4 linked regions of the Homo sapiens genome follow. The protein of the gene in region 1 purifies or fractionates together with the protein of each later gene. This does not show direct contact. Each region holds a gene or a part of one and is shown on either strand. Other genes may lie near its edges. The genes, in order: METTL9, SLC30A1, PITHD1 and SLC30A5.

Region 1 (8,221 bases):
CCACACCCAGCTAATTTTTGTATTTTTAGTAGAGATGGGGTTTCAACATGTTGTCCAGGCTGGTCTTGGATTCCTGGCCTCAAATGATCTTCCCACCTCAGCCTAGTTTTGTGTTTTATATTCTTTTCCCCACTCAGTTTGAAATGTCATGAGGATAGACACATGTGTGAAGATAGACACATTATTAAGAGATGCTATCGTCATGGGTTCTAAGAGAATGTTTTACAGAGAGTAGCTTTGCAGAGACCAAAGTCTCTGACAGATCATCAGACATTAGATTCTTACAGGATGGCCACCTAGATCCCTCACGTGGGCATTTTACATTAGGACTGAGCATCTTTATTATGATAACTTTGGTTGATGTTTTGCAGTTTAAAAAACTCTCAGATCATCTAATTCTCACACACGTCTTGTGAAGCAGACAGCTCAGAACCATGGCTCTTAGTTTACAGATGAGGAAAGAGAGGCTCAGATGAGGTTGATTTACCCAAGTTAAAGTGAAAACAAATTAACATTTTTTGAGTGTTTACTAAATGTTGAGGCACTTATTAAGCCCTTTATATTTATAGTATATAACATGATATTCACTGCATCCTTATGAAATAGGTAACCATTATTATTATTTCCATTTTACAGATGAGGAAACAGACATGTAGAGGTCAAATAATTTGCCTCAAATTGCATAATCAAGAAGCATAGAGCCCAGCTTAAAACCCAGATAGTCTGGCTCAAAGTGCAGATGATAAACTACCATGCTAATGAGTAGCACTGGGAGTTCTCCAATGAAGCACACGATGTTACTTGTATTTGCTACTAACGTCTTCTTTTTTTTGAGATGGAGTCTCACTCTGTCACCCAGGCTGGAGTGCAGTGGTGTGATCTCAGCTCACTGCAACTTCCACCTCTCAGGTTCAAGCAATTCTCCTGCATCAGCCTCATGAGCAGCTGGGATTGCAGGTGCAGGCCATCACCCCTGGCTAATTTTTTTTGTATTTTTAGTAGAGACCGGGTTTCACCATGTTGGCCAGGCTGGTCTCAAACTCCTGACCTTGTGATCCACCCACCTCAATCTCCCAAAGTGCTGGGATTACAGGTGTGAGCCACCGCACCTGGCCAACTACTAACATCTTCTAACCCCTGGTTCAATTCTGCTACTTGAGGCTTTTTTTTTTTTTTTTTTTTTTGAGATGGAGTTTCACTGTGTTGCCCAGCCTGGAGTACAGTGGCATGATCTCAGCTCACTGCGGCCTCTGCCTCCTGGGTTCAAGCGATTCTCCTGTGTCAGCCTCCTGAGTAGCTGGGATTACAAGCATGAGCCATGGTGCCTGGCCTAGGCTACTAATTTTTTTTTTTTCAAAGCTGTCTGCAGTTTTGCCTTGACTTAGAATTCATCAACTGGAGCCCACAGTGATATCATTGCACAGGATTGAAGTTGTATCAACTAAATTCAGATAAAGATCTCCTACGTTAATTAATTAAACAAATTGTTGAGTACATTTGCTAATTTTGTTAGAGGTGCTCATTGCTTAATAACTACAGGACACATTCTATTGAATATACTGGGAAAAAGCTGTATCTTTCTCTGAAGGTATACAAAACAATATTAAGAAGCATAAAAAATATCTGTCCATAAAAACATGATTATGGCCAGGTGCAGTGGCTCACGCCTGTAATCCTAGCACTTTGGGAGGCTGCAGCAGGCGGATCACGAGGTCAGGAGTTTGAGACCAGCCTGGCCAACATGGTGAAACCCCATCTCTACTAAAAATACAAAAAATAGCCAGGCGTGGTGGCAGGTGCCTATAATCCCAGCTACTCAGGAGGCTGAGGCAGGAGAATTGCTTGAACCCGAGAGGCAGAGGTTGCAGCAAGCCGAGATCGTGCCACTGCACTCCAGCCTGGGCAACAGAGCAAGACTCCATCTCGGGAAAAAAAAAGTGATTATATGAGTTATTTTTATTTTTATTTTTTGATACAGGGTCACCCAAGCTGGAGTGCAGTGGCACAATCTCAGTTCACTGCAGCCTCAGCCTCCCAGGCTCAGGTGATCCTCCCACCTCAGCCTCCTGAGTAGATGGGTCTACAGGTGCATGTCACCACGCCTGTCTTATTTTTGTATTTTTTGTAGACACGGGGTTTCTCCATGTTGCCCAGGCTGGCCTTGAACTCCTGGGCTCAAGCCATCCACCTGCCTTGGCTTCCCAAAGTGCTGGGATTACAAGCATGAGCCACCCTGCCTGGTCTATATGAGTTCTTTTTAAATCATTATCTCTTCAAGGAGATAACAATCATCAATAGGTTTTGTACAGATCCAAACTCTCTGCTTGTGGATTCTCTTAACATGATACTTTGTAATTGAAAAGAGAATATGAAAATGCCAAGCTTTGTAACTTCAAAGAACAACAATAACAAAAAGCCTTTGCCTAGAGATCTAGATAGGAAAGTGATCCCGCCAAAATTTTGGGCCTGTGTACAGGGCTGTGACCCAAGTGGGACACCTGGGGTCAATGAGCAGAGTTCGGTGCAGAGGGTCATTTGTGTATCTTTTGAATATTACTAACTGCATCTCAAGATCATGTTAGAACGAGTATTGGCTATTTGGCTTTTTGTGTCATCTTGCCCCTTCCCGTCTCCATTATGGAGAATTGAGGTTTTAATATACGGTAGTGACATTCTAGTAGATGAAGGAAGGGGGCTGTCCCCAGTGGGCAATCTGAACTTCTGCTTCGTATATTTACTCTTGCTGTTTTCGTTTCTCCTCATTTGTAATTCAGGAGGCTCTCTGAGAAGAGACAGCAAAGCTTCTTAGATGGATCGAAAGACCACGAGCTGGGATACCAAGTTCTATGAAAAGGTCAGCTATTGAATTTACTCTGCTACCTTCAGGCAAATCATTTGATCATCGGATGCTCTGGTTTCTTCCTGTGCCTGCTAAATGTAAATAGCATGGGTTTGAGTGTTTGGTGGTTATTATAGAGTATTTTAAATGTATGAGTGATTTATTTTTCTAGGCCAGCTGCTCAGATATAAAACAAAATCTGCTCCTTTGAGCTGTTAGGCTTCGTGGCAGTCAACTGACCCCAAAATCCTTCTGACTACAGCAGCCATCTACTTGCTTGTTCATCTGATAACATTTTGCAGTCTCTCAGCTACAGCTATGTGGTCTCACTCTATAGCTGGGGCATACCTTTTTGTCTCCTTTGTCTTCAGAAAGGAAATATGCCATTTTATGCACTCCTGCTGCTTTCACCCCCACTTTAAAAAGATGAAGGCTTCCTTTTGTGACAGAGTTGCTTTGTCTGTTACACTGATCCTAAGAGACAGGAAGGAGAGGTGTCATAGTAAATAAACAGTTATTGGACTTGCTACCATAGTTCCTTTTTGATGACTTGGGCCAGGACCACTAGAGGTTTGAACTAGATTTAGTAAGGCTTGGGCTTTTCGGGGTTTTGGCAGGAAGCAGTCAGGGAGTATATTGGAAAGAGAGAACACAAAATACCGAACCCCACCCACCCTGTGCCTTTTTGTTTGTTGTTACAGCCTGTTACATTAGGCAACAAGATATCCTTGTTAGCCAAAGGTGCCAAGCTGAGATTCTTAAAAGCTAATGAAAGAGCTGTTGGGCCAGGTGCGGTGGCTCACGCCTGTAATCCCAGCACTTTGGGAGGCCGAGGCAGGCGGATCACGAGGTCAAGAGATGGAGACCATCCTGGCCAACATGGTGAAATCCCGTCTCTACGAAAAACACAAAAATTAGCTGGGCATGGTGGCGCGCACCCGTAGTCCCAGCTGCTCGGGAGGCTGAGGCAGAAGAATTGCTTGAACCCGGGAGGCGGAGTTTGAAGTGAGCCGAGATCGAGCCACTGCACTCCAGCCTGGAGACAGAGCGAGACTCCACTCCGTTTCAAAAAAAAAAAAAAAAAAAAGCTGTTGGGTAAGGAATGATTTTGTTCCCCATCTGTGGCTCACCACCCCACTGTTTCATAAATGAAAATCTCTGATGTGCAACGCTGAATTAACCAAAAGGCTTACTTCTTTTGTTTTGAACTTAGACACATTTACATTATTTCTGGTGCAGTTAAATTAAAAGCACTTTCCAAACAAACCTAGGAAAGTATTAAAGTTAGGGACTCCCACGAAATGTTACTCCTTAATTGTGGCTTGGATAATAGCAGGAAGAACTGCAGACAGGAACACAGTGTAACTAACCCTTCAGTTCTGAAATGTTGCTAGGTCTCCTCGTGTTATAAATGATCAAATAAATATCCGGGTTAAACACTGCTCCCAGAGCTGAGTTCACTCTTAAGAGTGTTGGGTCCAACTTCCCTGTGCTAATTCAAGGAAACAAGGCAGCCAAGGAGTCTAACTTGAGGTCTTCATTCTTGGGCAGGGCCATCAATACATCTAAAACATTACTTGTGGGTACCCCAGCTGCGGTAGCTTCCCCAAAAGGCAGAATTTTCACTCATTCTTTATAGAAACACGTAGCCAGCAACTTCTCAGGCTTGGGGAACGGGGCAGGCGGGTCGTGGTGGTGGGGAGAGTAGAGGAGGGAGTCTGGCAGGTCGGTTCTAAATGTAAACTGGAAACTACGCATCCGAGCGGGCAACCATCACTGGCACCATTCGTCTCCGGGAAGAACCTGTGTGTGTCAGGATGCACGAAAGGAATGACTCCCCTCTTTGCGCCCCCGGGGTTAACTGCACGACCCTGTCAAAGTCCCGCCGTGGAGTGGGATGAGGGTCGAGAGGTAACCCTGTCAAAGTCCCGCCGTGGAGTGGGATGAGGCGAGGAAAGACTGGAGGTCCTTCCAGCACCACCTTGGAGGGGCAGGGAGGCTGCAGTTACCGCCTTCGGAAGTGATCTCCTCAGCCCTCAAAAAAATTAAAACCACCTCCGCCATTTACTAGAGGCCAAGGCAGGGCCGGGACACGAGAACGCGCTCCGGGCGGATGCGCGCTCCCTTTGTCCCGCCTCCCAGCGGCCCGCTCATTGGACGGAGGGAGGGCGCCGGGGGAGAAAGCGACGCGGCCGCTCGTAAGTGCTCCGGATGGAAACTGGTGCAGGGGGCAGCGGCGTTCCGCGGCCGGAAGGGAAGGGGGAGGTGCCGAGGCTGCGCGCCGGCTGCTCCTCCCCACCCCCAGCCTTTGCCCTGAAGGGGGCTGGATGGGCAAGGCGGCCGCGATGGCTCGAGCTCGGGCGGTGGCGGCGGTGGCCGGAGGCGGCGGTGCCTCCTCCTCCTCGCCCCGGCGCCGGCGGTGATCCGAGCGAGCGGCCGCGGCCCCCGATGAGACTGCTGGCGGGCTGGCTGTGCCTGAGCCTGGCGTCCGTGTGGCTGGCGCGGAGGATGTGGACGCTGCGGAGCCCGCTCACCCGCTCCCTGTACGTGAACATGACTAGCGGCCCGGGTGGGCCGGCGGCGGCCGCGGGCGGCAGGAAGGAGAACCACCAGGTACGGGCTGGGGCCGGGGCCGGGGCGGGGGCGTGGCGGCCCGGCCTTCCCGCGCTGGGCCCGGCTATTGTGCGGGACGGCTCCGCGAGGGGGCGGCCCGGCCCTCGCCCCTCCGCCTCGGCCCCTTGGAAAGTTTTCCCCGCGCCTTCCCCGCCGGGCGTCGACTCCGCGAGCCCCGGGCACCCGGCCGCGGCCCCGCGAGCGCCTTTTGTTCCGCAGCGCAGGCGGGGCATGGCCTCCCGGGCCCGATCGTGAGCGGCCCGGAGCCCCGCATTGTTCCTGGGTCCCGGGCGGTGACTGCGGACGCCCGGCAGCGGGACTGGGGAACTTTGGGGCCAGAGCGTGGCTGGGGGCGCCCGCCTGGCACCGAGGCCTGAGACTGAAGAGACCCGGCCAGATCCATTACCCCGAGAAACAAAACGAAAAGCCAGCCCCTCTTGTTGTCTCGTTGAATCCCAGAACGTACAAAGGGTCGTGAAGAAATGTAACTGTACATCGCAAGCCATTGAACTCTCCAGGCTGATTGGGGTGACATTTCTCCCTAAGCACTTAAAAAATGGGTTTGACAGGTTGTCGCTCCCATCCTACGGAACCTTCCCCTCCTACCTAGCAGAGATCTCCTTTAAACTTGGATTTAGTCAGCCTGCTAGAAAGATTGTGTGTGATGAGGAGGAAGATTATGCAAGTTTTACAGGAAGGGTTTTTAAAACAGAACGGGACGGGAGGGAGTTTTAGTTATGCATCGTGAGCGTTACGCTGTGACCGGGTAGGTAGGCTTTTCATTAGCTCAGTCTTGCGCCACTTAAACGTGTACAGGTTAACTGTAGAATTAAGTGAGATATTTCGTATATGACCTTAACATAGTTTGCAGTTAATGTTAAATTCATTGAAAAGAGGCTTTTGAACTCTGCCAGAGTGTTGGCTTGTCATAGCTAGCATTTATAATACATTTTGCTTTTCCATAGAGTATTAATTATTCCCTATATCATCTTGTGTCTCATCATTTTCATATATTTCTCATTTTCCTACATTACTTTTTTATTATGCCAGGTGTTCAGAGAATTTACACCCAGGTTGATTTCATGTGTTTTAATGAGGGTAGAGAATTGTCTAAGAAGGAGATAGAGCAATTTAGAAAAGTAGCATTTAGTCTTTAGTAATATGTATATTGGGCTTTTTTCTATTGTTAAAGGAATCCTAAATTTCTGTAAATTTTTTTGAAAGCCTCCAGCCATTGCAGTTTGTTAGGTGCAATATCAGTATCATTGATCACTTGTATGATATGGTTAGGAATGTATGTAAACTTAAATTGCAAAACCACATTTATTCCTATGGATTATTTGCTTACACTAGTTCATTCTTATAGAGACAACTCAAAGGTACTGTACCGTTGACTGTACAGTTACCAGAATGTCACATATGGAACAATGGGGTAGACAATGAATTAGAAATGTCATTTTTAACATTTTTAAGCAGTTGATAGAAATAAGGTCCTGGATAGGAGAAAAAGCGATTTATCTCCATTGATGGGGGATTATGGTTGAGTCTCTTAGCTATTGGTATTTATAACACTTATCATGATTACCCCTACTGCAGCCACTTGGTAGGTTTTTAGTGCTCATAAAAGAATTGCACTTATTTTAAAATTGAAACACTATTTCAACACTGTGATGTGTATGGAGGCGGAATTGCAGCTGTAGACATAGCCTCAGAATATCTCCCAGCAGAGGATACTTTCTGACTGTACCTTTTAAAAGCTGAATCTGTTAAGTTCTAATGAAAACTAATACTGGTTTCAGATACGTTTATTTCAGATACCGTATTTATATTCTGTGTGTGTGTGTGTGTGTGTGTGTGTGTGTGTACCCCTTCACTAACAATTCAGCAGATAATTTCTTTAGGGTGAAGACTTAATATGGTGTTTTCTGAATATTTGGGGGATGGGTCAACTCTTTTCCTTAGAATAATGAATCCAGACATTATTTTGACATGAATACATTCATATTATGAAAATAATCGTGCATGAATAAAGATTAAAAGGAACAGAAGAAAGGTGTGTAGAAACCACCATGAGATAAAGTAGGAAACTGTCCTTTCTGCACTGTGGCTGGAGTTGATAATTTGTTTTCCACTTAATATTCCAGGATCCTGGGTTTGCCTTATAACTTCGTTGCTTGTGAAGTAACTGTAACTGTTTTTCCTCCTTCAGATTAATAGTTTTATACAAGGTCTTCTAAGTGTTCAGTTGGGTGTGTGAGTTCCATAGCCAGCCACATCTGGGCCTTTTGGAGTTGCATAAAAGTAGGGTTGTGGATTTGATTGAACCATACTTAGCAAAAGTGTTCCTTCTGGTTATTTTATTAAGGAATTATGATGGAGGATTCTGTGGTTAAAAGAGAGATCTTGGGCAATGTTTATTCGTTAAAAATGGCTATTTTGTTAGTATAGTTTGGAGAGGCAAGGCTCCTTTGGGCTAAAGCTGCTCTAAAACTGTAGTAGCAGTGCCATTTTAGTAACTTGGTTTGGTGTGCTAGCTTCAAAACTGGGATTATGTTTCACTTTGGGCAAGCAAGAAGCAGGGTTTCACTTAGAGCAGGGAAGTGGCTGGGAGGCCAGACTGGTCTCACAGACTTATTTTACAGCCTATGAAATAAGAATAGTTTTATATTTTTAAATGGTTACCAAGAAAATATCAAAATAACATTTTGTAATACATGAAGTTTCATTTATGGAATTCAAATTTATTTCAGTGTCTACAAATAAAGTGTT
Region 2 (5,633 bases), on another chromosome or scaffold:
CCCCAGAAGTGGTGATACAGTGGAAGTACAAGTGAATGGAAATCTTGTCAGAGAACCTGACCATATGGAACTGGAAGAAGATAGGGCTGGACAACTTAACATGCGTGGAGTTTTTCTGCATGTCCTTGGAGATGCCTTGGGTTCAGTGATTGTAGTAGTAAATGCCTTAGTCTTTTACTTTTCTTGGAAAGGTTGTTCTGAAGGGGATTTTTGTGTGAATCCATGTTTCCCTGACCCCTGCAAAGCATTTGTAGAAATAATTAATAGTACTCATGCATCAGTTTATGAGGCTGGTCCTTGCTGGGTGCTATATTTAGATCCAACTCTTTGTGTTGTAATGGTTTGTATACTTCTTTACACAACCTATCCATTACTTAAGGAATCTGCTCTTATTCTTCTACAAACTGTTCCTAAACAAATTGATATCAGAAATTTGATAAAAGAACTTCGAAATGTTGAAGGAGTTGAGGAAGTTCATGAATTACATGTTTGGCAACTTGCTGGAAGCAGAATCATTGCCACTGCTCACATAAAATGTGAAGATCCAACATCATACATGGAGGTGGCTAAAACCATTAAAGACGTTTTTCATAATCACGGAATTCACGCTACTACCATTCAGCCTGAATTTGCTAGTGTAGGCTCTAAATCAAGTGTAGTTCCGTGTGAACTTGCCTGCAGAACCCAGTGTGCTTTGAAGCAATGTTGTGGGACACTACCACAAGCCCCTTCTGGAAAGGATGCAGAAAAGACCCCAGCAGTTAGCATTTCTTGTTTAGAACTTAGTAACAATCTAGAGAAGAAGCCCAGGAGGACTAAAGCTGAAAACATCCCTGCTGTTGTGATAGAGATTAAAAACATGCCAAACAAACAACCTGAATCATCTTTGTGAGTCTTGAAAAAGATGTGATATTTGACTTTTGCTTTAAACTGCAAGAGGAAAAAGACTCCACTGAAATTCTAAGTTTGCCAAGTAGTGTAATTGAAGTCCTTGTCTGGTCACACAGTTTAATTCTATTTTTGTAAGAACATAATGGGACTGCATAACAGAGTTCTATATTACAATTTTGTGATTATTAGTACAGAGTACAGCTATGCTGTGACTGTTTTGGAAAGCCAGTTTTAACACTATGTTACATTTTTGTTTAAAGTAAGTTAAACCTTATATAACATAATGACATTTGATTTCTGGATTTTTCCCATGATAAAAATTAGGGGGATAAATAAAATTGTTACTGGAATTTCTCTGCTTTTCTTTTCCCCCAGTGTTATACTTTATTAGAATTATAATTGATAGAACTTTAAAATCATCAACAGTTTGTTTCCTTTGACATTTTAGGTGATATTGCCCTTTGAGATCATTACATAGCATAATGGCAGCATATTTTAAGAGTGACTCATGGCTATTAGTAGGAAATAAGATCAGTTACTATCCTGTATTCTGTATTGCTGGCTATTAAACAGTAAGATAATTAACAAATTGAACTACAGTTTACACACAATGGGGCAAATGGGGTAGTAAGAGCAAGGAAGAAAGTTTACCAAACTAAATATTTAGGTTATTGTATGATAATATTGAGACTACATTTCTAAATTATTTTGAGAATTTCAACTTTTTATTCTACCAAAGTTAATCTGAAACTTGGACATGTTCACCAGCATTACTTTCTTTGAAAGATTGGTATAAAAACATTGAGCTGCAAGTTTATTTACAAAATATATAAGTATTTTTAAGGATGTTGACACCTAATAATTACATGCTAAACGCAAACGATTAATGTAATCTTTTAAACCGGGCGTTTGAAAAAAAATTTTCAAGGTCATTTCATGATAACCAATCATGAATGGATTTAAATGGAGCTTTTTGAGCACAACCAGCAATGTTTGTGCTTTCTAAGAGTCACTGACTTGAGAGGAAAGAAAACCAGAAGGTTAATGCAGTTTGGATATTAAATTCTTAGCAAAATTAATAATTAAAGCAAAATTAATTAAGATTTTGTAAGTCATCCTGTCTTCACATACTCAGATCTTCCAATAGTGGCTTATTTTGCAAGATGCCACAATATCTACACAGAAAATTGTGGCTATTTCATTATTGCTATAGATTTCAAATCCAACACAAATATTTAAGGGTGTTTAAGTTATATTTTTCTTGATAGAGGGTATGCTTTGTGACAAAATTAGATTTTTGTCCTTGAAAGGATTAATATTAGCATCAGTTATGTATAGCTCTATTTTTCTAGAAACAAGGTATTCTGACTACTTTTATAGCTGACTACTTTTGGGATGGCTACGTTTTGGGATTTAAAATAGTTCATTGTTTAATGGGTTGTAAGAGGAAAAAGTGTTAGGATTTGACAGTTACTTTTTAAAGGGATGATCTTTTGTGGTGTGTGTTTTTCCTAGTATAAGCCTATTGCTGGCGATGGGCCTATTTAAGAACAGCTGATTTTTTCCAGTGAAAATATGGTAATTTTAGGAACACAGTTTGTAAGTTCACATTTACTATAATGGGCCAAAACCATAACCTGCCAGTTTGCAATACATCTTGATCTTTTAATATTCTTATCTGATATTGTGTAATTCAATTCCTAAACTGATAGTTACCTTGAATTTTGCGAAAAGGTTTGGGTGGTTTTTTTTAAACATGAAATTGAGGGATCTCATCTGGGCGAACAAGAAGAGAAAGCTGTGAATTGTACTGTATCATGTACATTCCTGATTTAATACTTTACAGAACATTTTATTCAGATATCAATTTGTTACATAAACATTTCAGCAATGATACAAAGATAACTGATAAAATATATTACATTCAATGAGGTTTTCTTTACAAATGCTCTACTTGAGGTCTGTGTCTTAAAGATGGCATGACACCTAAGTACAAGACATCAACTGAATGAGGATTTTAAAAAATGGTATATAAGCATAGGACAAGGGCTATGTTTGTTTGTTTTTCAAAAGTGCTTTGAAGATAACAGCCTTTAGGTTTGAGTTATTTCACTTTTCATAATTTTTAAGTAGCTTATATATAATGGTGGTACCATAGGATTTTCTTTTTTCAAATGACTGTCGGCAGAAACAGTGGGCACTGACTCACCTTTTGAGTTTTAGCAGAGAATTATTTATTTCTTTACAATGCACTTTCTAACCCATTGTAGCTATATTAGCATTATCTTTTAAAAAAGACATGCTTTTGTATTTAAATATTGTAGGATTTAAGTGTCTTTCTCAAAATAGCTTATTCCTTTCTGAAAGAAAATGAGGGAAATACTCTGAATTATTAGGAGACTTAAACCCAATATTTAAATATGCTATTTTATAACACTGCATCAGTTTTAGGAGTTGCATCTCTCCTGCTGGCTCTTTTATATTTGAGCAAGATCAGTGTAGAATATGTGTTTAGAAACTTGTCTGTTGTCTCAGTTTAGTGAAAAGGAGGTGCTGCATGTGCCTGAATTAAAACCAAGAAATTTTTCCAAGCCAAATGCAGCCTTAGTGATGAGAGATTTAATTCTCCATTGTCACCTTTTAGCTTTTATGATTGCTTAGTTTTTTCTGAAGGATGTCTGCATTGTAAAACTATGGACTAAAACCTAAAAAACAGAATCCTCAAAAACTTTGCTGTATGTGTTTTAACATTTTAGAGAACAGTATGTTGAATAACTAAGGTATGTAACTTGAATAGGAAAAATGTCCATCAAATGCACCTTGGAAAATCACAGTAGGTAGAAGGCTGTGTTAACCGTTTGTGTCTTATTAACATCCTTAAGTTAATTTTGAATTTTTGACAGTTTTGAGGGAAAAGACCTATGGAACCTAATGTGAAGTATTTCGTATGTTAACTGGTGTTGAGTTGAAGATTTTTACTGTGTATAAGCAGATATCATTTGAATGATAAAAATGTCATTAACCTGCTGTCTTAAGATGTTCACACAAATATGGAGAGTAATTCTACAATATAAAAATATTTATTTTAATACTGAGTTTCAGTTAAGTCATAAACAGTGTTAAAACTCTTGGGAAGGTGTAGGGGTTTTTTGTTTGTCATTTTTAAAATTGAAACTGTGTCATACAGTGTTTCACGTCTCTGAAATTGGGATTATAATAGCACTATTTTGATGTAGCTCTACCGATACTATGTGGTAATGCTATTTTGTTTTACTAACAAGCTCTGGAATATTTAGCAGTCATTTTCACTGGCACAAGAGCCTTTTGTATGTTATTCAATTTAAACTTTTAAACCAAAAATTTTATGGTCCAGTGTCTTTGGCAAAAAGATGCTGGAGGGAATGTAACATACAATTAATATGTGGTTATATATATATATAAAAAGACACAAATTGCCATGTTATGGTTCTGCCTTGAAACAGCACAATGAAGTGTATCAGTATATTCTGTGATTATGAAACTTATATGTTGTGTTGTTTTGTGTCTTCTGTTGCCTGTCCTTTGGGCCAGATGTGGGCCAGTTAAATGCAGTTATCATCTCATTAAATACAGATGCAGATAAAATATCTTTAGTGCTGCAACATTTTACCTAACTTTTTGTATGTTTTCATGACTGTGTGTTATTTTCCAAAGCTGTTCCTACCTCACCATGAGGCTTTATGGATTGTTATGTATTATAAATGTTCTATATGAGACAGACTACTGTGTTTCTTCTCATTTATTAAAAGTTAAGTAGAAAAATAAACTAATTTTAATATCTACTTCATTTGTGCATATGGCCTCCCCTCCGATACTAGGCTTAGTTACACAGAGAGTTGGATTTCAGATAATTGAAAGAGAAATTTCAGTTTAACACAAATGTTGCAAGTGTACAGAGTGACTAGGTTACAAGATGGGTGTGGAAGAAAATGTAAGCAAAAATTGCAATTAAAAATTGAAAGGGTAACACTGCAAAGGCTCACTAATATGAAATACTCAGTGGCTTTGAATTTTATTATAAGCATTAAGCTTATAGATTATATAGTTGTGGTTAACCTGCTGCTTTTGGCACTTGCTATTTTTTTATTTATAAGCATAGTTACTAATAAGGTTTATTAAATATTTTACACCTGTAAATCATCTAAAATTCTTAACGCAATAGTATATTATTGTGGTTCTATGAGCCTCAGGACTATCACAAATGTAGTTTCATAAAAAAATTCATTAAAGAACTTGTATTTTGGGCTGTGAGACAACAGTTGAAAAAATCAACTGACAATAAATGGCAGTAGATAAAGGAATTGATCTATATACAGTAGATATTCCAAAGAAGAGGTAAAAAAAAATTTGGAAAGGATATGTAGGTTAAAGTGGAAAGGAGTAGGGTTTGAGAGGCAAGGGAGCAGGAATAGTGGTATAAAGAATTGGGGGTCTGGGCAGGGTGGCTCATGCCTGTAATCCCAACACTTTGGAAGGCTGAGGTGGGTCAGATCCACTTGAGCTTAGGAGCTCGAGACCAGCCTGGGCAACATGGCAAAACCAGGTCTCTACCAAAAAAATAATAATACAAAAATTAGCCAGGGCTGGGCATGGTGGTTTACTCCTGTAATCCCAGCACTTTGGGAGACTGAGGTAGGTGGATCACTTGAGGCCAGGAGTTTGAGACAAGCCTGGCCAACATGGGGAAACCCCATCTCTACTAA
Region 3 (8,022 bases), on another chromosome or scaffold:
ATGTCAATAAATAAACCTTCACAATGACCTGGAAGACCACATTCACATTTTTGGGCCTCTCAGAGTTCTGTACTAGAAGGTGGTGAGAGGCAGAGAACAGGACCCTAGCCCTGCCCCATTCTCTCCATATCTCTAAATCTGTGTGCCTGGAAGGGCCTTGTGTCCACGCATGCAGAGGTCCTAACCTGTGTGCTCACACTTTGTTCTAGGGGTTCTAAATTGAAAAGGTCCCTCAGGTATCCAGCACAATGAATGACAAAAGAGACCAAAGCACAACAAAAATCATCACATTCTAGAATACCAAGAGAAGATCTTAAAAGCTTCCAGAAAACGGGGTGGGGTGGGGGGAAAACCCATAAAAAGAATCAGGATTCAGAACAGCATTGTATTTATCAAAGCCAGAAGAAAACCAGAGCAATTTCTTCACAATTATGAAAGAATTCTATCCACAGCCAAACTACTAATTAAGTACAGTAGAATAAAGCCATTTTCAGTGCCACTTAACATGTATGGCAGCATGGTAGCCAGCCACTAAGGTGGCCTCTAATGATTTCTACCTCCTGGTATCTGCACTCTTATGAAGTTCCCGCACACACTGAATATGGCTGACCTGTGAAACCATGGGATGTTGCAAAATTGACAATATGGGACTTCTGTGGCTAGGTCATAAAAGACATTGGTGGTTTCTACCTTGCCCTTAGATCACTTGTTCTGCTGAAAACCAGCTGCTGTATCATGAGGACACTCAAACAGTACTATTGAGAGGTCCATGTGTTAAGGAACTGGGGCCTCCTGCCAAGAGCCTGCACAAACTTGCCAGCCGGGGCTTCTCCAGCCCTGGCCAAGCCTTCATATGATTTCAGGCTCATGAGAGACCCCAAGCCAGAACCACCCAGCTAGGACGCTCTCAAATTCCTAACTCACAGAAACTGTGAGATGATAAATGTTAATTGTTGTTTTGAGGAGAGAGGCCATTTCTCTTACTGTCTCTGAAGAGAAGGAAGAAGTAAAAGCTGAAAAACAACAGGAATGAAGTCAGTGGCAAGACCAACTGATGCCACTTACCAGGCCTGAGGTTAAAGATTAACGCCCCCACCCTAACCACATGTGTTACCTATAGATCACTTGCTCAATCTATCACAACCCTTTCACGTGGACCCCCTTAGAGTTATAAGCCCTTAAAAGGGCCAGGAACTTTTTCTTTGGAGAGCTTGGTTCTTGAGACACAACTCTGCCAACGCTCCTGGCCGAATAAAGTCTCTTCCTTCTTTAACCTGGTGTCTGACAGGTTTTATCTGCAGCTTGTCCTGCTACAGTTTTAAGCCATTAAGTTTGGGAATAATTTGTTACACAACAAAAGACAACTAATACAGACCTACTGGGAGGGGAGGAGCCACAGTATTTTGCAGTTCTTCCAATCAGGAGGTGAAGTCTACAGTCTAGCTCTCCACTCTAGAATTTGGATTTGGCTGATGGGTCATTATAGAAAGATTATAGATGTAAGGCTTAAAAAGTGCTTGTGCTGGCAGGGCGCAGTGGCTCATGCCTGTAATCCTAGCACTTTGGGAGGCCGAGGTGGGCAGATCACCTGAGGTCAGAAGTTTGAGACCAGCCTGCCCAACATGGTGAAACCCCATCTCTACTAAAAATACAAAAATTAGCCAGGCGTGGTGGCAGGCGCCTGTAATCCCAGCTACTCGGAAGGCTGAGGCAGGAGAATCGCTTGAACCCGGGAGGGGGAGGTTGCAGTGAGCGGAGATTGTGCCACTGCACTCCAGCTTAGGTGACAGAGCAAGACTCCATCTCAAAAAAAAAAAAAAAAAAAAAAGTGCTTGTGCAATTGAGTCTTGCCCTCTCTTGCTCCTGGGAACTCTGCAATTATCACCATGTAATTTAGCTAGGCTTGTCTGCTGGAGACACGTGGTCCCATCATCCCAGCTAACAGCCAGCATCAAGCAGACGAGAGTGAGACCATCCCAAACTTTCCAGCCCAAGCTGAACTGGCCCAGAAAAGCTAATCCACAGGATCATGCGAATTAATCAATGTTTGTTGTTTAAAGCTATCAAAGTTTTAGGGTAATCTGTTACACAGCATAAGCTAATTGATACAGCATATTTACTTTGTGTGCACCTCCCGCCTCAACCTCCCCACCCTAACCAGGAAACTACTGATGTGTTACAAGAACACTACAGGATGTGTTCAAAGCCTGGTTACCTCCTAACTTTACCTAGTCTCAGACAAGTTAGTTTGCCTCTTTCAGCCTCAGTTTTCCTCATCTTCAAATTGGAGATAACAGTAGGTAATAGCACCTAGCTCTCTTTTTTTTTTTTTTGAGATGGAGTCTCGCTCTGTCGCTCAGGCTGGAGTGCAGTGGCACAATCTCGGCTCACTGCAACCTCTGCCTCCTGGGTTCAAGCGATTCTCCTGCCTCAGCCTCCCGAGTAGCTGGGATTACAGGCACACGCTACGATGCCTGGCTAATTTTTCTATTTTTAGTAGAGACGGGGTTTCACCATGCTGGCCAGGCTGGTCTCAAACTCCTGACCTCAAGTGATCTACCCGCCTCGGCCTCCCAAAGTGTTACAGGTGTGAGCCACCACACCTGGCTGTACCTAGCTCTTAAAGTTCATGTGACAATTAATTGAGATGAACTACATAATGTGCTTAGCACACAGTGCTCAAATAAATCATTAATGAAGGCAACAGGAAAAAGCCAAAATGAGTAGATCTCCGGGGTAAGGCCTGAGTTGGTTCTTCAAAAGGACACTCTTACCAAAGAAAGGCTACCAAGTATATCAGTCAAGTAAACATTTACTGTTTGCCACATTCCAGGTCCCTTACCTGAAACTGTGACCTAAAAGCAGGAATAATTCACGGCACTGAGCTATTTTGAAACAGAACCAAGCTTGCTTATTGCACAAGTAACTAAAATAGGACATCAAAATATTTTTCTTGTTTTTATTTTTTTGAGACAGTCTTGCTCTGACACCCAGGTTGGAGTGCAGTGGTATGATTACAGCTCACTACAGCCTCACCCTCCCAGGCTCAGGAGATCCTTCCACTTCAGCCTCCCAAATAGCTGGGACCACAGGCATGAGCCACCATGCTGGGCTAATATTTTTAATTATTTTTGTAAAGATGGGGTCTCCCTATGTTGCCCAGGCTAGTCTCAAACTCCTGGGCTCAAGTGATCCTCCCACCTTGGCCTCCCAAAAGTGCTGAGATTACAGGCATGAGGCACTGCATGTGGCCCAGAAAATATTTCTGAATGGAACTTGAAAAAATGGATATTTTGGTCTATACTTCACCAGCCCCACTGAGCACTCCAGAGCCAGATGTGAAGGGAAGAGGGTAGCCAGGGTATCCCATAACTCTCTTTCTGTATCCTGTCTTTTCCCCACCAGGGAGTAGGAAAACATTCTATCCTGAAAACAAGATTATTTCACCTCTAAACAGTGACTTTTAATTATTTTGATCTCAACCCACAATATGAAAAACACATCATATTGTGTCTGAATACAAACTCAAAACTGAAACAAAAGTTTCATCAATTGAGACTTGAAATGTGTGATACATTCTGGGTTTTTTTTTTTTTGTATTCTATTTTTTTTTTAAATGTTGATCACAATTCTCTATAAACGGATTTTAAAACCTATTGACAGGCCACAACCAGCTGTTCGAAAAAAAGTACTTTGAAATATCACATGGGGGAGGAAACGCAGAGATCATCTAGTCCAATCCCTTCACTTCACAGGGGGTAAACTGAGTCTCAGAAGATCAAGTCACTTGCCCAAGGCCACGCAGCTAGTAAGTTGCTGTGGTTGGATTTGACCGTAATAACCATCGGCTACTGAATGCCCATCATGTGTCAGCCATTTGCTGAGTTTTTTCTTTTTTTTTCTTTTTGAGACAGAGTCTTGCTCTGTCGCCAGGCTGGAGTGCAGTGGCGCGATGTCGGCTCACTGCAACCTCTGCCTCCCGGGTTCAAGCGATTCTCCTGCTTCAGCCTCCCGAGTAGCTGGGACTACAGGCTCGCGCCACCACGCCTAGCTAATTTTTGTATTTTTAGTAGAGACGGGGTTTCATCATGTTGGCTAGGATGGTCTCGATCTTTTGACCTCGTGATCCGCCCGCCTCGGCCTCCCAAAGTGCTGGGATTACAGGCGTGAGCCACCGCGCCCGGCCTGCTGAGTTCTTTAATTGCATTATTTCATTTAATACTCACTGTGATCCTATGAAACAGATACTATTCTTTCCACCTTACAGACGGGGAAACGGAGTCTCAGAATAGGGGAAATGACTTAAGGTGTCACAATGGCCAGTAGCAGACCCAGGAGTAGTCTTTAGGTCTGGCCGTGCACAAAGCCCCATGCTCTCAAGCTGTAACCCCGCTATCAAGAAAGTGGTTATGCAAGTGGGCCTGTGAGCTCTCAACGTCTAAGCCGTGCGCATGTGAGACAGCGATAAGCTCGCGTTCTCCAGTCTCCAGGGCCTTATCATTCCTCACGCTTTCCTTCATCGGCTCGCAAAGAAACGTGGCGATCAAGGAAGACAGCGAAGGCTCCATCCTCGTCGGGGGAGGATAATTCGAATCTCAGCCTGTGAGTTTACTCAGCACACCTGTTTAATCTCTTGGTCCTTCAGTTTCCACACCTAGGAAGCTGGAACAGCAGCAGCATCCAGCGCCAGGACTGGAGTCATATACGAACTCTGGCACCTGGGAGGCGCGCGTCCTACGTCAGTTCCGCTCGACCCCACCCCCCCCGCCCCCCCGCCTTCTCCCCACGCGCATGCGCCGCGCAGCGGCGCTTTTTACGACGCGGCAGGCGCGGCGCGCTTAGTTGCCGGAGCTGAACGGCGCGGAGCTGGTCTGAGGCGAGCCGAGCCGAGCGAGCGCGGCGGTGGGGCCGAGAGGACGCGCAGGTGGCGGCGTTGCCATGTCGCACGGTCACAGCCACGGCGGGGGTGGCTGCCGCTGCGCCGCCGAACGGGAGGAGCCGCCCGAGCAGCGCGGCCTGGCCTACGGCCTGTACCTGCGCATCGACCTGGAGCGGCTGCAATGCCTTAACGAGAGCCGCGAGGGCAGCGGCCGCGGCGTCTTCAAGCCGTGGGAGGAGCGGACCGACCGCTCCAAGGTGGGCCGCCTGGGGCTTGGGGCGGGCGGGGCAGGGTGCGTGTGGGGCCTCGGGCCGTCGGTCTACTCATTTCTGATGTTAAGAATAACGACAGCCTGGTTGCCAAGCGCTTTTCCGTGCCTGTCTCCTGCCAGCTCTTTGGGAGGCGAGCAGCGTTGTCTCCCCATTTTGCATATAGGGAAACTGAGGCCTAGAGGGAACGGGGACAGTTTTGTCAAGCTACACAGCCTAACGCTCTATTCCAGGGCTGTGTGGGCTAGAGAGGATGGTCGTGAGGGCCGTTGGACCATTGGTGCTAATGGCTGCCTCATCATATTACCTGGTGAAGATGAGCCTAGGGAGATGAAAGGTGGTTCCCATATAGAGCAAATGTTCTTTACATTGTGGGGTCGCAGGCCCCTTTGCTATCTGTTTGAAAGCAGTGGACCTTCTTCTCAGAAAAATGCACATAAACACCTGCCTTTCAGTTCACACTTCAGAAGGCTCTTCGACCCTGGAAATTCATTCATGGGCTTTTTGTTAAGAACCTTCCAGTTGGGTGGCCTGTGGCTGTTATGACACTGGATAAGACTGGTTAGCTTCAAGTTAATAAGTCTTGGAAAACCAAGGGAGAGTGACTCTTCCCATTGCACCCCAGTTGTAGAGCAGGGTGGGAGATGCCTGAAATTGTAGGCTCTCAGCAAATATTTGTTGCTTTCTCCTCCCCCCTCCCCATCCCCTCCAGTTTGTTGAAAGTGATGCAGATGAAGAGCTTCTGTTTAATATTCCGTAAGTATCTCCTTGGTGCCTACCTCAGGCTAAATAGGCTGTACCCAGTTGCCTCAGATGGATTCATTCACTGGTGTCAAGAGCACACATTTGCTTCTAGAAATGGGATAAATTACTTTGGTGGGTTTGAGGAGGAAAGCATCATAGCTTTCTTGGTGCAGACTGGAAACAGATGTATTTGTAGAACAATAACTGAGAAATTGAGGTAGATTTCTTAGAATTGTAGAATGCTAGAGGTAGACAGGATCTTAGAAATTATCTAGTACAAGTTGACAGATGAGTAAACTGAAGCCCATACAGGGGAAGGGTCTTGCCCAGGGTCACACAACTAAACAGGTATTCAAACTCAGGTTTGACAACCTTCTCTTTTGCATTCTGGCAGATTTACGGGCAATGTCAAGCTCAAAGGCATCATTATAATGGGAGAGGATGATGACTCACACCCCTCTGAGATGAGACTGTAAGTGGCAAAGGCTTAGGCCCTCAAAGGAGCTCCTAATTCTCTTTTTCTGGTAACATTTTATTCCAGAATAGTATCATTTTCTTCTTACCGGGTTTAATATTTCCCCTTTTAAAATATCTTGGTCCTGTTCTCATTCTGCATTGGAATACATATATTTCTTCCTGAATTAATGACTTTTTTAGATTAAGCATCTTTAGGCCCAACAGCGTGTCTCATATTTCAAAGTGCTTACTATGACATGATTCATTCAGAGAGCATTGTGTAAATGTCACTTGTTGATGACTCTGCAGTTTTCTTAATAACTAGCTGCAGATCTCATATGATCTTTATGGATTCTAGGGGTTAGCTTCAACATTTTTCCTTGCTATTTCATACAGTAATGATCTTATGTGTTTTGTTGACATGGAATTGCTCCACCTGACTTTGCGTGGCATTTAGTTAGCAAAGTTGTGTATACCTCTTGCAACACTGAATCTTTTGCCACCAGAGCTAGTACCCTTTTTGACAACTTACCTTATTCCAGAACAGCCTTCCTAAAAGAAGGGGAAAACTGCTTTCTGAGTGCTGGAGAAACATATAAGAAGAACTTTACATTTAAAAAATTCAGTCCGGGTGCAGTAGCTTATCTCACAAAACCAATAAAAGATGATATATAGGCTGGGCACAGTGGCTTACACTTGTAATCCCAGCACTTTGGGAGGCTGAGGCGGGCGGATCACCTGAGGTTCGAGACCAGCCTGGCCAACCTGGTAAAACCCCGTCTCTACTAAAAAAACAAAAATTAGCTGGGCCTGGTGGTGCGTGCCTGTAATCCCAGCTACTAGGGAGGGTGAGGCAGGAGAATTGCTTGAACCTGGGAGGCGGAGGTTGCAGCGAGCCGAGATCTCGCCACTGCACTCCAGCCTGGATGACAGAATGAGACCCCATCTCAAAAGTAATAATAAAAACAAATAAATAAAAAATTCAAATCCTAAAGGCCGAGCATGGTGGTTCACACCTGTAATCCCAGCACTTTGGGATGCCGAGACTGGTTAGGAGTTCAAGACCAGCCTGACCAAGATGCTGAAACCCCGTCTCTACTAAAAATACAAAAATTAGCCGGGCATGGTGGCACACGCCTGTAATCCCAGCTACTTGGGAGGCTGAGGCAGGAGAATCGCTTGAACCCAGGTGGCAGAGGTTGCAGTGAGCCAGGATCGTGCCACTGCACTCCAGTCTGGGTGACAGAGCAAGACTCCATCTCAAAAGAAAAAAATAATTCAAATCCCAGCACTTTGGGAGGCCGAGGCGGGCGGATCACTTGAGGCCAGGAGTTCAAGATCATCCTGGTCAACATGGCGAAACCCTGTCTCTACTAAAAATACAAAAATTAGCTGGGTGCGGTGGCACAGGCCTGTAATCCTAGCTACTGGAGAAGCTGAAGCATGAGAATCACTTGAACCGCGGAGGTGCAGGTTGCAGTGAGCCAAGATTGCACCACTGCATTCCAGCCTGGGCAACAGAGTGAGACTCTGTCTCAAAAAAAAAAAAAAAAATTCATCTGAAAAATTGATTAAAGGACTTCCAGAGATTTAAGATATATTATAGTTGAGTATTAGAAACATGAATTTGAAAGCAAATCCATGTATTTAATCATTTTAAGGAAATAATACCTT
Region 4 (7,539 bases), on another chromosome or scaffold:
AAAATTCTGAGCATAAAAGCAGTGGAAAAAATCACAAAGGGAAAACTCACTATATTTGGCTTCATAATGATTATAAACTTAACGTATAACAGAAATCAGTGTGTATACAAAAAACTAACAACAAAAATTGCCAGAAATAAGTTTTACATTCCTTTCAAAGTATAAATCACCCATTTCAGTTTAAAAAATGCTTAAGATCCTTGGCAGGAAATCAGCAAAAAACTGGGAATGACAACTCACAAAAGAAATAAAAATGACTTGAAAACATTTAAAAAAAAAGTTTTCCTCCTTAAGTAACTAGAAGTGAGAGTGTTCTCATTAGTGTGAGAAATGGATCAGGGCATCAGTCCAGGACTTGATGATTGTTTTTTCTTTTTTTTTTTTTTGAGATGGAGTCTCACTGGGTTGCCCAGGCTGGAGTGCAGTGGCACCATCTTGGCTCACTGCAACCTCCACCTCCCAGGTTCAAGCAATTCTCCTGCTTCAGCCTCCCGAGTAGCTGAGATTACAGGCACATGCCACTACACTTGGCTAATTTTTGTATTTTTAGTAGAGACAAGGTTTCACTATGTTGGCCAGGCTGGTGTTGAACTCCTGACCTTGTGATCTGTCCGCCTTGGCCTCCCAAAGTGCTGAGATTACAGGTGTGAACCACCACGCCCGGACTTTTTTTTTCTTTTTCTTTTTTTTTTTTTTTGAGACAGAGTTTCACTCTGTCACCCAGGCTGGTGTGCAGTGGCACAATCTCAGCTCACTGCAACCTCTGCTGCCCAGGTTCAAGCAATTCTCCTGCCTCAGCCTCCTGAGTAGCTGGAATTACAGGCACCTGCCACTGCGCCTGGCCTAATTTTTGTACTTTTAGTAGAGACAGGGTTTCACCATATTGGTCAGGCTGGTCTTGAACTCCTGACCTCATGATCCACCCGCCTCGGCCTCCCAAAGTGCTGGGATTACAGGCGTGAGCCACCACGCCTGGCCTTTTTTTCTTAATTATGAGACTGAAGCATTACAAAATTCTCAGTTGCCTTCTTTGTTAACAAAAAGATTAAGTTATGTTCTCTGTATTTGATTGTTGTTGATGTTGCCATATCCTAACTCAGTGAAAACTTAAGAAATTTAAAAGTACATGGTTTTTCTCATGTGTAGTGTACTGAATTTTGTTGTAATACCACACTAACAGAATTTATCCATTATAGTGGTAATCATAGAATGAAGAGTATCCTCACTTTGCATTGTAAACTTTAATAGAAGTATTGTATTATACTTCCATTATAGGTATATATAATACACTTAATGTATCTATATATAATAGGTATTCTACAAGTATATGTATCATACAAGACATGTTATACCTGTAAATTTGTAAATATAGAATGTATAGTAATGCTGTTTAGCCAGGCACAGTGGCTCATGCCTGTAATCCTAGGACTTTGGGAGACCGAGGCGGGTGGATCACGAGGTCAAGAGATCAAGACCACCCTGACCAACATGGTGAAACCCGTCTGTACTAAAAATGCAAAAATTAGCCAAGCATGGTGATGTGCACCTGTAATCCCAGCTACTCAGGAGGCTGAGGCAGGAGAATCACTTGAACCCGGGAGATGGAGGTTGCAGTGAGCCGAGATCGTGCCATTGCACTCCAGCCTGGGCAACAGAGACTCTCCTCAAAAAAAAAAAAGGAATGTATAGTAATGCTATTTAGATTGCTCTTGAAGCTACCATTCTGAAATATTTACATAAACCGAGCTAATATGTCCTTTCTATAATTTTCTTTTATGAAAACCTTTTTCCTCAGCCTGAACAACATGGCTAGACCTGGTCTCTACAAATAAAAAATTAACCAGGCATGGTGGCACATGCCTGTGGTCCCAGCTATTTGGTAGGCTGAGGCAAGAGGATCACTTGAGCCCAGGAATTGGAGGCTGCAGTGAGCTGTGTTCACGCCACTGTACTCCAGCCTGGGCGACAGCGAGATCTGTCTGAAAAAAAAAAAAAAATTTTCCCTGGAATGAGAACATAAATTTTATCAGCTTTTTAAGTACTTTGTACTTTACTAGATCTTAGAAATGACTTTGCTGGTTTTACCGTGCCCTCTGGATTATTTTTCTCTAGAGGAGTAGTATCTAGAATATTCTCTATTCCTTGCATATTGTAGAGTAAAATAAGTTCCTACTAGTTATTCTTTAGCTACGTGGGCTTTTCAACCAGAAGTAAAGTAGCATTTAGGAAGGCTGATTCTGTAAACAGTACCAATTTGTACATAGTAATATGCCCAGCCATGTTAGCAAAGAGATAATCAATGTTATCATTAGTTTATATCTCTTTGATATCTTACTGCCAATACTGTAAGCTTATAATATGTAAGAGCTTTAATGTCAGATTTTTTTCTGTTTTTTAATGCATTTTTGTAAATGCTTACTTGAGAAAATGTTTTTCTTTAGTATTTATGTAGTTACGGTCTTAAAAATCAACCCTTGAAAAAGTCATCCTTGATGTTGTTTTCTTTATTTTCAGACAAGGGGAGCTGCTTTTTTCATTATTGCTGTGATCTGTTTATTGCTTTTTGACAATGATGATCTCATGGCTAAAATGGCTGAACACCGTATCCTTTTGGAATAGATCAGAGTTGTTTCAAGTCTTGAGGAAAACTAGAAGCCTGGAACAATGGAAAAAGAAAGGATAAGTGAATTAAACTGATCAATGATGAATGAAACTTTCATAGATTAATGTAGATATTCTAAATCAGTATTCAAATAATGAACAAACTCATTATAAGTTAAATATTTTATAGCATCTCTGTATCACCTACAGTACCCTAAATTTTCAGAAATGTAGGGACATTGAAAGAATATTTTGGAATGTCCTGGTGCTGGAAAAAAAAAAGGTGATTTGCCACTCAACATGTTTGCTCCCTTATAATTTAACAATTAAAAGGCTGATAAATGAAAAACCTTTAGTATCTTCTTGCCTGAAAGAAAAAGTTCAAATTCCCTTACCTAGTATTCATTGTCTTGCTCTAAATTATTATCTCTAGCTCAGCCCCAACTCTTCTCTTACAGAAACCCAACTTTCTAGTCAAATATATCTACTCATTTTACTCTACAAACATGCCTTTTTTTCTATTTTCTATTCATACATCCTTACCCACTCCATCCAGCAGAACTCCAAGCACCAGTTTTTATTCTTCTATTACTGATACTCACTGCCCTAAAACTTATTAGTAAACTAATAATAATTTTCTTTGTTACAGTGAGGGAGAAGAGTGTGACTTTGGAAAAGCTCCAGGTTGCTTGTGATACAACCTCTATTCCCCACCCTCTTTTGCTTGCCACTTAATTTGCTAAGACTTATGTGGTCAGTGACTTAGAAGACAGATTTAGGACTCATTTTACATGTCAGTCTTAAAGGGCAACCTTAATTCCACTGGACAGGAGTGGTCCAGGGAGATTCCTTGCTCTTGTACCTTTGTCGTTCTTAAAGTATGTATGCAATGTGTCTTTTAGAGGTTAACTACTAAAATCTGGCAAGTTTATCTTAAGCACTATTATAATTGTTTTGGAGACAACAAAAGAAATACAGGCATTCCAGTTTATAAATGAGGTCCTGGAATTAAATGTTAGATTGTTTTATTTTGTTTTGTTTTTAAGTGAAACATGTTATTGAAAGTAATTAAGTTTGAGGCCTCCAGATCAGTCTATATGCAATCCAAAATAATGTAACTAAAATTTCAGGAGAACTTCAGGTGTCAAAGAGTGACTTTTTGGAATTTTTTTCCTTTACTTCAACTCACTTAGCTGAAGGACATCATGACAGTGCTCTAACTCATATGCTTTACACAGCCATTGCCTTCTTAGGTGTGGCAGATCACAAGGTATGATTTCTTTGTTCCTAACAGGATCAAAAGATTCTGAAAAGTTGTAGCAACTATAACTATAAAGGTACATTTAAAATAAATTATCAGCTGGGCCCAGTGGCTCACGCCTGAAATCCCAGCACTTTGGGGGCCAAGGCAGGTGGATCACCTGAGGTCGGGAGTTCAAGACCAGCCTGACTGACATAGAAAAACCCCATCTCTACTAAAAATACAAAATTAGCCAGGCATGGTGGCACATGCCTGTAATCCCAGCTCCTCTGGAGGCTGAGGCAGGAGAATCACTTGAACCCGGGAGGCCGAGGTTGCAGTGAGCCAAGGTCGCGCTATTGCACTCCAGCCTGGGCAACAAAAGCGAAACTCTGTCTCAAAAAAAATAAAATAAAATAATTATCAGTAAGTTATAACATTGCCGGCCATTTAAGTAGTTACGTAATTGAGTATATGGGAAAAATATACTAGTTCCATTTCCTTAAATATTATGTTAGCATGGTGTGGTGGTGTGTGCCAGTAGTCCCGGCTACTTGGGAGGCTGAGACAGGAGGATCTCTTTGATCACAGGAGTTTGAGGCTGCAGTGAGCTGTGATCATGCCACTATACTTCAGCCTGGGTGGCAGAGCAAGACCCTGTCTCTGGGGAAAAAAAAAAAAAAAAAAAAAAAAAAAAAAGATCATGTATTTAACGACTGACTGTTGAACTGTGTGTGTTTCTAATGAGACTTATCTAATTTTACTCACAGGGTGGAGTATTATTGCTAGTACTGGCTTTGTGTTGTAAAGTTGGTTTTCATACAGCTTCCAGAAAGCTCTCTGTCGACGTTGGTGGAGCTAAACGTCTTCAAGCTTTATCTCATCTTGTTTCTGTGCTTCTCTTGTGCCCATGGGTCATTGTTCTTTCTGTGACAACTGAGGTAAGATAAGAGCAAGAATTTATTGGTATTAAATTGCTAGTAAAATGAATTGCTATTAAATTTTTAGTTCACTGTATTCAATAAATTATATTTTAATTTGAGGTTGAAAGTGGCTTAAATTGTCTTTGCTTTTTCTTTGTAGTTTTTTAAAAAAAATTTGGAGTTAATTTTATTGTTTATAGAAAATACAAATCAAATGCTATTACATTTACATATCCCTCACATTGCTATGGCCCAAAGGAATCATTTGAAGAAGGAGCAATTAACCATGTGTTAGGCTTAAAGATTGTGTGTCGCCTAGTGTTCATCGAATGATTACACAATAGTGCTTTTGTTTTTTAAAACTTTGGAGAATACTGAGAAAATGTACCAATATCTTATAGCTTTTATATGTTGGCATATTATGAATCATATTGAATCATGCGATTTTTATTTTTTTAAAAGATTAACAGAAACATCTTGTAAGATGTGAACTTTATACATGTATAGTCTTGACAATTCTTTTTTTTAATTTCTAGAGTAAAGTGGAGTCTTGGTTTTCTCTCATTATGCCTTTTGCAACGGTTATCTTTTTTGTCATGATCCTGGATTTCTACGTGGATTCCATTTGTTCAGTCAAAATGGAAGTTTCCAAATGTGCTCGTTATGGATCCTTTCCCATTTTTATTAGTGCTCTCCTTTTTGGAAATTTTTGGACACATCCAATAACAGACCAGCTTCGGGCTATGAACAAAGCAGCACACCAGGAGAGCACTGAACACGTCCTGTCTGGAGGAGTGGTAGTGAGTGCTATATTCTTCATTTTGTGTAAGCATTCCCCCCTTTTTTTTATTTTAACAAATTTCTATTTATGGATTTTGATGGTCACATCATTTACTTATTTTGGGAAATTCTTCAGTGCTTGCATTTAGTGCCGACAGTTACTGTGTTGGTTTTGGTAGCTTAAACTTCGAAAATTTAAACAATATTGTTTTTTCTCTTTGTAGCTGCCAATATCTTATCATCTCCCTCTAAGAGAGGACAAAAAGGTACCCTTATTGGATATTCTCCTGAAGGAACACCTCTTTATAACTTCATGGGTGATGCTTTTCAGCATAGCTCTCAATCGATCCCTAGGTTTATTAAGGAATCACTAAAACAAATTCTTGAGGAGAGTGACTCTAGGCAGATCTTTTACTTCTTGTGCTTGAATCTGGTAAGATTTTTAAATGTTAATTGACATATCCTAAAAGCATAATATTTTAATTTTGACAGTTCTGGTATAAGTTTAGTACTTCCCAAATTTCTGATAATAAGATGAGCTAAAATTTAAATTTTTTCTAAGTATAATAGCAAGATTACGAGATCATATTCAGATTCCTTAGGCAATCCTTAAGGCATGTGCCACCGTGCCCAGCCACTTAAGCAAACAATTTGTGAGGCATTTTAGAAGCATTGATTTAGTATGTTCCTTCAAATCAGTAAATATAGTAGCATTTAAAGAGTTCTAATAACTTACAGGATCTCACTATTAGCAATCAGTGTTATAAATCACCTATTGCTAACATTTTATAACCTAGTTTATTATTTTTATAGACATATAAACAAAACCATTTTTAAATAGTTTCTAAAATGGATTTATCTTAGTTTTTTACAATTTAATAGTTTGTAAAATGGGTTTATCTTAGTTTTTACAATTTGTGTGAAATAGGGTTTCTAATGTAAGTGGCAGTTAAATAACTAAACAATTATAGCAGATCTTCAAGTAAATTTGGATAATTAAGGGTTAAAATCCTCCTAATTGAAACAGTGCCCAACATACTCCTCCCTTTTTTTTTGGTGACATTTTTAGCTTTTTACCTTTGTGGAATTATTCTATGGCGTGCTGACCAATAGTCTGGGCCTGATCTCGGATGGATTCCACATGCTTTTTGACTGCTCTGCTTTAGTCATGGGACTTTTTGCTGCCCTGATGAGTAGGTGGAAAGCCACTCGGATTTTCTCCTATGGGTAGGTACATTGACTGTCGAGGTGGTATATCTTAAGTGCAAATTCCATCTTAAGGAACAGAATTATATTACTTATATTACTTTTAATACAAATAATTTCCAAATCTTCATTTTTAAAAAATGTGAAGTAAATAAGGGGATGTGAATCGGGCATTTGATAAATACTGAATGGAATTAAGCTCAAAGATTATGCTCCCTTGGCCGAGCACAGTGGCTCACGCCTGTAATCCTAGCACTTTGGGAGGCCAAGGCAGGCGGATCACCTGAGGTCAGGAGTTCGAGACCAGCCTGGCCAACATGGTGAAACCTCGTCTCTACTAAAAATACAAAAATTAGCCGGGTATGGTGGCACGCACCTGTAGCCCCAGCTACTCGGGAGGTTGAGGCAGGAGAATCGCTTGAACCCAGAAGGCAGAGGTTGCAGTGAGCCAAGATCGTGCCACTGCACTCCAGCCTGGGCAACAGAGTGAGACTATGTCTCAAAAAAAAAAAAGACAGGGCCAGGTGCGGTGGCTCACGCCTGTAATCCCAGCACTTTGGGAGGCCGAGGCGGGCGGATCACAGGGTCAGGAGATCGAGACCATCCTGGCTAACACGGTGAAACCCCGTCTCTACTAAAAATACAAAAAAAATTAGCCGGGCGTAGTGGCAGGCACCTGTAGTCCCAGCTACTCGGGAGGCTGAAGCAGGAGAATGGTGTGAACCCAGGAGGCGGAGCTTTCAGTGAGCCAAGATCGTGCCACTGCACTCCAGCCTGGGTGACAGAGCA

Evidence for each region.
Region 2: the proteins of METTL9 (region 1) and SLC30A1 purify together in Homo sapiens (co-immunoprecipitation; 3 studies listed by BioGRID and IntAct, with this or other methods). This does not show direct contact.
Region 3: the proteins of METTL9 (region 1) and PITHD1 purify together in Homo sapiens (co-immunoprecipitation; 2 studies listed by BioGRID and IntAct, with this or other methods). This does not show direct contact.
Region 4: the proteins of METTL9 (region 1) and SLC30A5 purify together in Homo sapiens (co-immunoprecipitation; 3 studies listed by BioGRID and IntAct, with this or other methods). This does not show direct contact.

What each region holds. Positions count from the first base shown.
Region 1 is NC_000016.10:21,594,447-21,602,667, forward strand, and holds the start of METTL9 (protein-L-histidine N-pros-methyltransferase isoform 1 precursor), read left to right. Parts: upstream 1-5,130; 5' UTR 5,131-5,287; coding exon 5,288-5,452; intron 5,453-8,221. UniProt on the Homo sapiens protein: Protein-histidine N-methyltransferase that specifically catalyzes 1-methylhistidine (pros-methylhistidine) methylation of target proteins.
Region 2 is NC_000001.11:211,570,647-211,576,279, reverse strand, and holds the end of SLC30A1 (proton-coupled zinc antiporter SLC30A1), read left to right. Parts: coding exon 1-892; 3' UTR 893-4,712; downstream 4,713-5,633. UniProt on the Homo sapiens protein: Zinc ion:proton antiporter that could function at the plasma membrane mediating zinc efflux from cells against its electrochemical gradient protecting them from intracellular zinc accumulation and toxicity.
Region 3 is NC_000001.11:23,773,578-23,781,599, forward strand, and holds the start of PITHD1 (PITH domain-containing protein 1), read left to right. Parts: upstream 1-4,840; 5' UTR 4,841-4,938; coding exon 4,939-5,136; intron 5,137-5,860; coding exon 5,861-5,904; intron 5,905-6,286; coding exon 6,287-6,364; intron 6,365-8,022. UniProt on the Homo sapiens protein: Promotes megakaryocyte differentiation by up-regulating RUNX1 expression.
Region 4 is NC_000005.10:69,110,626-69,118,164, forward strand, and holds part of SLC30A5 (proton-coupled zinc antiporter SLC30A5), read left to right. Parts: intron 1-2,514; coding exon 2,515-2,602; intron 2,603-3,794; coding exon 3,795-3,871; intron 3,872-4,611; coding exon 4,612-4,782; intron 4,783-5,300; coding exon 5,301-5,589; intron 5,590-5,768; coding exon 5,769-5,977; intron 5,978-6,613; coding exon 6,614-6,771; intron 6,772-7,539. UniProt on the Homo sapiens protein: Together with SLC30A6 forms a functional proton-coupled zinc ion antiporter mediating zinc entry into the lumen of organelles along the secretory pathway.